2 linked regions of the Homo sapiens genome follow. The protein of the gene in region 1 purifies or fractionates together with the protein of each later gene. This does not show direct contact. Each region holds a gene or a part of one and is shown in the gene's direction. Other genes may lie near its edges.

Region 1 (4,000 bases):
GTGACATGGCTCTTACCAGTTTAAATGGTGTGGTTATTTTCTTTTTCTTATATGAATCTTTTGCTCAAAACATACCTACTCATTGTTTCCTGAACACATCATTTACTTTGCCACCTCTGTGATTTTGCTCACACAATTTCTCCAGTTCGTAACACCCTTAACACTCTTCTCTGATAATCAAAGACCTTGACCTTTAAGGCCAAGCCAAGTACCACCTTCAGGGTGAATATCTCCCCAAGGACCCAAGATTTCAGTGACTTAGTCTCTCACCTTCTATTATTTTTATGGTCTCTATCTACTTAGCACACATCCCATATACATTTTCTATTTAAGGATATATTCTTTCTTCCCAACTAGATTTTAAATCTCATGAAAACAGCAGTCCTATTTTATTTCCACATTTATATTCAATTCCTAATCTAATATATATATAATTATATAAAATTATATATATATTTTATATACGATATAAATTATATATTATATATAATTATATGTATAATTTTATATATAATTATATATATATATATATATATATATATATATATATATATATATCCTATCCTCTTGCCCGGGCTGGAGTGCAGTGGCATGATCATAGCTCACTGCAGCTTCGAACTCCTGGGCTCAAGCAGTCCTCCCACTTCAGCCTCTTGAGTAGCTGGGACTACAGGCATGCACCACCACTCCTGGCTAATTTTTGTATTTTTTGTGGAGACAGTCTCGCTCTGTGGCCCAGGCTGGTCTTGAATTCCTGGGCTCAAGCAATCCTCCCACCTTGGCTTCCCCAAGTGCTGGGATTACAGGAGTGAGCCACCATACCCAGCCATAACAAGTATTTAGTAGTTTCTAATGATAGTTAGATTTTTTGCTTTGATATCATCATCATAAAAGATCTGGGGCACTCTTCAAACCTAATTTAGGTTGTAATTGAATAATGAAGCAGTTAAAATATGACAGTAATATTTCCATCAAACTTAATCCTATACGTTACGTTAATGTATCTGTATATACATTTACCATAATGTACACAGTCATTAATTATACATGGTTGTTGCTGTATGTTAATGTACTATGGTTCAGTTTTCAAAGGCAAATGTTATAGTGCATTCCAGGACACCTGTGTCCACGAGATAAGTTCTTTGAAACTATATTTGGATCTGCAGGCTATTAAAAGCTTCTTGTACTGAGTGACCTTTCAGGCAGAATGTAGACTGAGCGCTCCTGCTACTGCTGCCTGTTGCTGAGAGGAAGACCGCAGAAAATTCTGGATTCAAACATTTATTGCTTTTTTTGTTTTGCTTTGTTTTTGTTTTCTTTCCTTTTGCCTTCAGAAGATGAACAATGAAACCACAACCCTGATATCCTTGAAGGAGGCAATGAAAAGGTTGCTGAGGGCTATAGGGAGGGAGCAAGCATGGGTCTGCTATTCTGGGAAGATGGGTAAGAGAAGAATGAAGAATAGAAATAAAGAACTGCAGACATGCTCATTAGAATTCTGTCTCTGTGGCCGGTGCGGTGGCTCACACCTGTAATCCCAGCACACTGGGAGGCCGAGGTGGGCGGATCACAGGGTCAAGAGATTGAGACCAGCCTGGCGAACATGGTGAAACCCTGCCTCTACTAAAAATACAAAAATTACCCAGGCATGGTGGCGGGCGCCTGTAGTCCCAGCTACTTGGGAGGCTGAGGCAGGAGAATCACTTGAACCCGGGAGGTGGAGGTTGCAGTGAGCCGAGATCGTGCCACTGCACTCCAGCCTGGCAACAGAGCAAGACTCCGTCCAAAAAAAGAATTCCGTCTCTATTACAGTGGTTTAAGTCTTCCAGGCCCAAACCTATGTAAATTAACAATAAAGAAAAGTCTGCTCCCAGGTGCTGTAACTCCATTGAATGTATGCATATGCTAAATCCTAGATTTACAAAAATAAGTAAAATGTGGTTTCTGCCCTCAAGGAGCTCACAGCCTGTAGGAAAGAGAAAAGTTTGAAAAACATTTACAATTTAATGTGACTGACCTTACAATGGTGATGTTCCTAAAGGTCTATGCGAACATGAAGGGAGGATCAACCAATTTTGCCTTTGACACTAGAAAAAGGAACTCTTCATATAGGGTCATTTAAGCTGGATCTTAAAGTGCAAGTAGGAGCTTATGAGGGAGAAAAATATGGGAAGGCATTCTAGGCTGAGGAAACAGTGCATATAAGCCATATGTAAGCTTGGAACCACATAATGTATTCAAGCAGCAACTAGATGTCTCGTGTAATTGGTAACTAGGATGGGTGAGGGGACTGGTGGAAGACAGGAGCAAAGGGTGAAGGCCCTTGACTTTCCTGCTGAGGAGATCCAGTTTGCCTCTGAGTATATCACTGGGCAAGCCAGGATGACATAAACCATTTGTAATCAGTTGAGTCACAGAATCGGAATTGTGTTTTAGAAGAATGTGTCTGGAGGATGGATGGGAAATGGAAAACGGGGGTCCAGTTAGGCTACGGTAATCTTGGGTCCTAGTGAAAGATGATGAGAAACTCATTTGATGGAGATGGAGAGGCAGGAATGGGTTAGAGAGACATAAATCAGGGGAAGAAAAAAGTTGAGAATTATTCTGAGATTTCTAGTTCAAGCAATTGATTGGATGGTGAGGTCATTAACGAAACTAGGGAACTGTACTAAAACAAAACAAAACAGCCTGCGCTGAGATTTGCATGTTGGTTGAGATTTATCTGGAACGGCCTCGGACTGTCCTTTGGTGAGAGGATTCCAAAGAACTGCTGCAACTGTAAATTTTTATACTGATTGACAAGCTAGACTTCTTCCCTAAGTTTCAAACTACAGATGACCTATAAGCAATATAGTCTTAAAGGTCTAAAAGTTAACACAAAATAGTATGCCAAATGGCTTTTTTTTTTTTTTTTTTTTTGAGACAGAGTCTCACTCTGTCACCAGGCTGGAGTGCAGTGGCGCGATTTCAGCTCACTGCAACCTCCGCCTCCCAGGTTCAAGTGATTCTCCTGCCTCAGCCTCCTGAGTAACTGGGACTACAGGTGTGCATCACCACACCCGGCTAATTTTTGTATTTTTAGTAAAGAAGGGGTTTTACCATGTTGGCCAGGATGGTCTCGATCTCTTGACCTCATGATCCACCTGCCTTGGCCTCCCAAATGGCTGGGATTACAGGCGTGAGCCACTGCACCCGGCCAACTTTCTTTTTTTTTTTTTGACACAGGGTCTTGCTGTGTTGCTCAAGCTGAGTGCAGTGGCATGATCACAGCTCACTGCAGCTTTGAACTCCTGGGCTGAAGCAATTCTCATACCTCAGCTTCCCCAGTAGCTGGGACCACAAGTGTGCACACCACCACACTAGGCTAATTTTTTATTTTTTGTAGAGATGAGGTCTCACTATGTTGCCCAAGCTGGTCTCAAACTCCTGGACTCAAGTGATCCACCCACCTTGGCCTCCCAAACTGCTGTGATTACAGTTGTGAGCCACTGCACCTAGCTCAAATCACATGGTTTTGACTTGTAGACAGAAATTACAGGCATATCAGGTCACACAGGCTTCTATTCCTACAAAATGAACATTTTATACTGAGTCTTATCTATGTGTAAAGCAGTGACAACATTTCTTCATAGTAATTTCTGAAGATGGGGGAGGTATTAGTAGGTTAAGCTTAGGAGAGTTGAGTTTGACATCTCCATCTTTGTGGAGATGCACAAAACATATTGAAAATACATCTCTAGGCCGGGTGCGGTGGCTCACGCCTGTAATCCCAGAACTTTGGGAGGCCGAGGTGGGCGGATCGCCTGAGGTCAGGAGTTCGAGACCAGCCTGGCCAACATGGTGAAACCCCATCTCTACTAAAAATACAAAAATTAGCCGGATGTGGTGGCGCCTGTAATCCCAGCTACTCGGGAGACTGAGGCAGGAGAATCACTTGAACCTGGGAGACAGAGGTTGCAGTGAGCCAGGATCGTGCCACTGTACTCCAGCCTGGCGACAG
Region 2 (3,500 bases), on another chromosome or scaffold:
TTCACCATTCCCAGGCGGGGCGGCCACTGTTCCCACACATTCACACGCCGGGTGACCACTGTTCATACGCATTCACACGTGGGGCAGCCATCATTCCCACACATTCACACGCTGGGCGGCCACCATTCACCATTCACCATTCACACACAGTATATCCTACTATTCACACTCGGGGCATGGGGATGCGGGGTGCCTCCCGGGGACTCACCGGCGCTTCTGTCTCTGTACAGAATCAGTATATCCCACAATTCACATGCAGGGCTGGGGTGGGCACGGGCAGGGGGCCCAGGCGGGCTCCTGGGGACTCGCCGGCTGTTCTGGGCTGACAGCTCTCCCACCCCTCCTGGGTGACACCTGACCCCAGCGGCATCATCTGCCACCCCACTCCTGAGACCACATGGAGTCAGAATCAGGCCCTTGGGCAGGACCACAGCCCTGGCAGGATGCCGGGTCCCCTGTCAGCACCCAAGTCCTGGTGCATGCCTTTTGTATGGTTCCCCTCCCCGCTTGCCGACACCCCTCCACACCGCTTCTTGCCTGAGGATCTGAAGGAAATTGGCACTGAGATCCACCTATACGTGTAGGCACCCCAGGAGGAAGCAGGTGTCACCCGGCCTCCGAGGGCTGGCTGAGCCTCTGTGCCCCTCCCTCCGCAGGACAAAATCCCCATGGCCCAGCGCCGCCGCTTCACGCGGGTGGAGATGGCCCGTGTGCTCATGGAGCGGAACCAGTACAAGGAGCGGCTGATGGAGCTGCAGGAGGCTGTGCGGTGGACTGAGATGATCAGGTGGGAGTTGCGGCCACCCCAGGAGGGGCTGCGGGATCATCCCTGACGGCAGGACTGCGGCTCCCTCCTCTGCACCTCCCTGTCTTCTGGGGGGACTGAAGTGCGCTGGGTGCTTCCTGGCGGGAGCCAGAGAGTCGCAGGTAAGGGAGGCGTGAGGGCACTAGCAGGTTGCTCCCTGTGCCCTCCCCTGCAGAGCGTCCCGAGAGCACCCATCCGTCCAGGAGAAGAAGAAGTCGACCATCTGGCAGTTGTAAGCTGGGGGCCCCTGGGGGATGTGGGCAGCAGCTGCAGGGGAAGGGGCAGGGAGGTTCCCTGGTCCTCTGCCCACCCCTCACCTCCCTGTGCCTCTGGCAGCTTCAGCCGCCTCTTCAGCTCTTCCTCCAGCCCCCCTCCGGCCAAGCGCCCCTATCCCTCGGTGAACATCCACTACAAGTCACCCACCACTGCCGGCTTCAGCCAGCGCCGCAACCATGCCATGTGCCCGATCTCGGCAGGCAGCCGGCCCCTGGAATTCTTCCCTGACGAGTGAGTGTCCCGCAGCCCCCACTTGTGGCCTGCAATGGGGTTGGGGAGGCCCTGTCCTGAGGCTCCTCCCCTCCAGGCCCTGAAGCGGGACTTTGAGGGCAGCCTCCACCTTGCTGGCCACATGCCAGGGGCCGTGACCTCTCCCTGCACACTGCCTGCCCCTCCCTGCAGCGGGGAGCTGGGCTGCTTTGGCTCCACGGTATTTGGTTCAGGATGTCCCTTGGCAGAGGCTGTGCCCACCAACAGTCAGGGGGCTGTGCTGGGCTCCACGGTGGCCTCTGCAGCAAGGAGCCGTTTCAGGCGTCTGTCCAGCAGGGAGTCGCTGGTCATGCCTGTGCCCCGGCGGCACTCCAGGTCCCGGTCTGTGGAACCCTCAGTGACTGTGGCAGCAGAGCAGCCTCTGGGTCGAGCAGGGGCCAGCTGTGGCCTCCAAGCCCAGGGGCATAGCCGGTGCCAGGAAAGCCACCCTTCCCAGCTGGGCACCCAGTGCCGGGAAAGCCACCCTTCCCAGCTGGGCACCCGGTGGCCGGGAAAAGGCGAGGATGGGCCCAGGCGGGCCTCCCTGCCGTGACCTCCCCCAGGACAAGCCTGGGGCACTGTGGGGGCCGCTCACCCTGGACAGAGACATCACCCATCATTCTTCCACTCAGCGACTGCACGTCCTCCGCCCGTCGAGAGCAGAAGCGCGAGCAGTACCGCCAGGTGCGTGAGCACGTGCGTAACGACGACGGCCGTCTGCAGGCCTGCGGCTGGAGCCTGCCCGCCAAGTACAAGCAGGTGCGGGCGGGCGCTGCGGGGACCGGGCGGGGCCCCGCAGAGGCGGGGCGGGGGTAAGGGGCGGGGCGCTGTGGGGCGGGGAGAGGGCGGGGCAGTGCTAGGGGGTGGGAGAGGACGGCGGGTGGGGCGGGGCCTGGCAGGTTCCTAGTGAGCCTCCTGGGCAGGGGTCTGGAGGGTCGGAGAAGGAGCCCCGCGGCTCCCACGCCCCCACCTGCCTCCAGTCTTGAAGTGGCTGTGCCGCCAGAAGCTGGCAGCCCTACCTGTCTCAGATTTCTGGAGGGATGGGTAGGAGCCAGGGTTCGTGCCCACGGCGCCTCCCTGCTCCCTGCAGCTGAGTCCCAACGGGGGCCAGGAGGACACGCGGATGAAGAACGTGCCGGTGCCGGTGTACTGCCGCCCTCTGGTGGAGAAGGACCCCACCATGAAGGTGAGCCCGCGAGGACCCCGCTCAGGCTGGCTGGGCGAGCGGGAGGCTGGGGAGTGCCGGTGACACCCGACCTCGGCCCTGCCCTTGCAGCTGTGGTGTGCCGCGGGCGTCAACCTGAGCGGGTGGAGGCCCAATGAGGACGACGCTGGGAATGGAGTCAAGCCAGCGCCAGGCCGCGATCCCCTGACCTGCGACCGCGAAGGAGACGGCGAGCCCAAGAGCGCCCACACGTCTCCCGAGAAGAAGAAGGTGAGCATGGCCGAGGCCACCGGGCACCCTCCCTGGCTTAGTCTCAGGACAGCTCAGCTGCAGAGCATGCTGGGAGTGAGACACAGGACAGCTGGGGACAGCACCCGGAAGCAGGGCAGCGCAGGGGCTCCTAGACTGCGGGAAGCAGTGTCTTCCCTCACCAGGACTGAGCCGCCTTCTGGGTTTTCAGTTTTCACCCCCCAGGTGGCCTGGAGTGGGCCTGCACTGGGCTGCAGGGGTCAGGCAGGCAGCAGGCACAGAGGAGCCCAGGAGCGGCAGAGCTTGCCTCCCAGTGGTGGGAGGCTTAGTTTTATGCCCAGCTTGGGCCTCTTGGAGCTCAGGGGCCTCTTCTGTGGAGGCGAAACCGTGTCTGTGAGTGCTTTAGAGTGCAGTCCTGAGTCCGCATTGTTCTGGTCCTGGGGGAGGACAGCCATGTCCCCTCAAGCTGTAGTCAAGGCTGGATCCTGACAGATTCTGGGAGCCCCATGGCCCTGTGCTGCCACCGGGTAGCCTCAAGCTCGGGCTCTGACCTTGATCCCGTGCCCTGAAACAGGCCAAGGAGCTCCCTGAAATGGACGCCACCTCCAGCCGGGTGTGGATCCTGACCAGCACCCTGACCACCAGCAAGGTGGTGATCATCGACGCCAACCAGCCGGGCACGGTGGTGGACCAGTTCACCGTCTGCAACGCGCACGTGCTGTGCATCTCCAGCATCCCCGGTGAGCAGCTGGAGTG

What was found. The genes of interacting proteins can lie anywhere in the genome.
Region 2: the proteins of SMCO1 (region 1) and MAPK8IP3 purify together in Homo sapiens (affinity purification with mass spectrometry; 2 studies listed by BioGRID and IntAct, with this or other methods). This does not show direct contact.

What each region holds. Positions count from the first base shown.
Region 1 is NC_000003.12:196,512,547-196,516,546, reverse strand, and holds the start of SMCO1 (single-pass membrane and coiled-coil domain-containing protein 1), read left to right. Parts: upstream 1-1,200; 5' UTR 1,201-1,337; coding exon 1,338-1,387; exon of another isoform or gene 1,388-1,417; coding exon of another isoform or gene 1,418-1,443; intron 1,444-4,000.
Region 2 is NC_000016.10:1,761,695-1,765,194, forward strand, and holds part of MAPK8IP3 (C-Jun-amino-terminal kinase-interacting protein 3), read left to right. Parts: intron 1-656; coding exon 657-787; intron 788-980; coding exon 981-1,037; intron 1,038-1,141; coding exon 1,142-1,312; intron 1,313-1,962; coding exon 1,963-2,089; intron 2,090-2,420; coding exon 2,421-2,516; intron 2,517-2,606; coding exon 2,607-2,765; intron 2,766-3,318; coding exon 3,319-3,484; intron 3,485-3,500.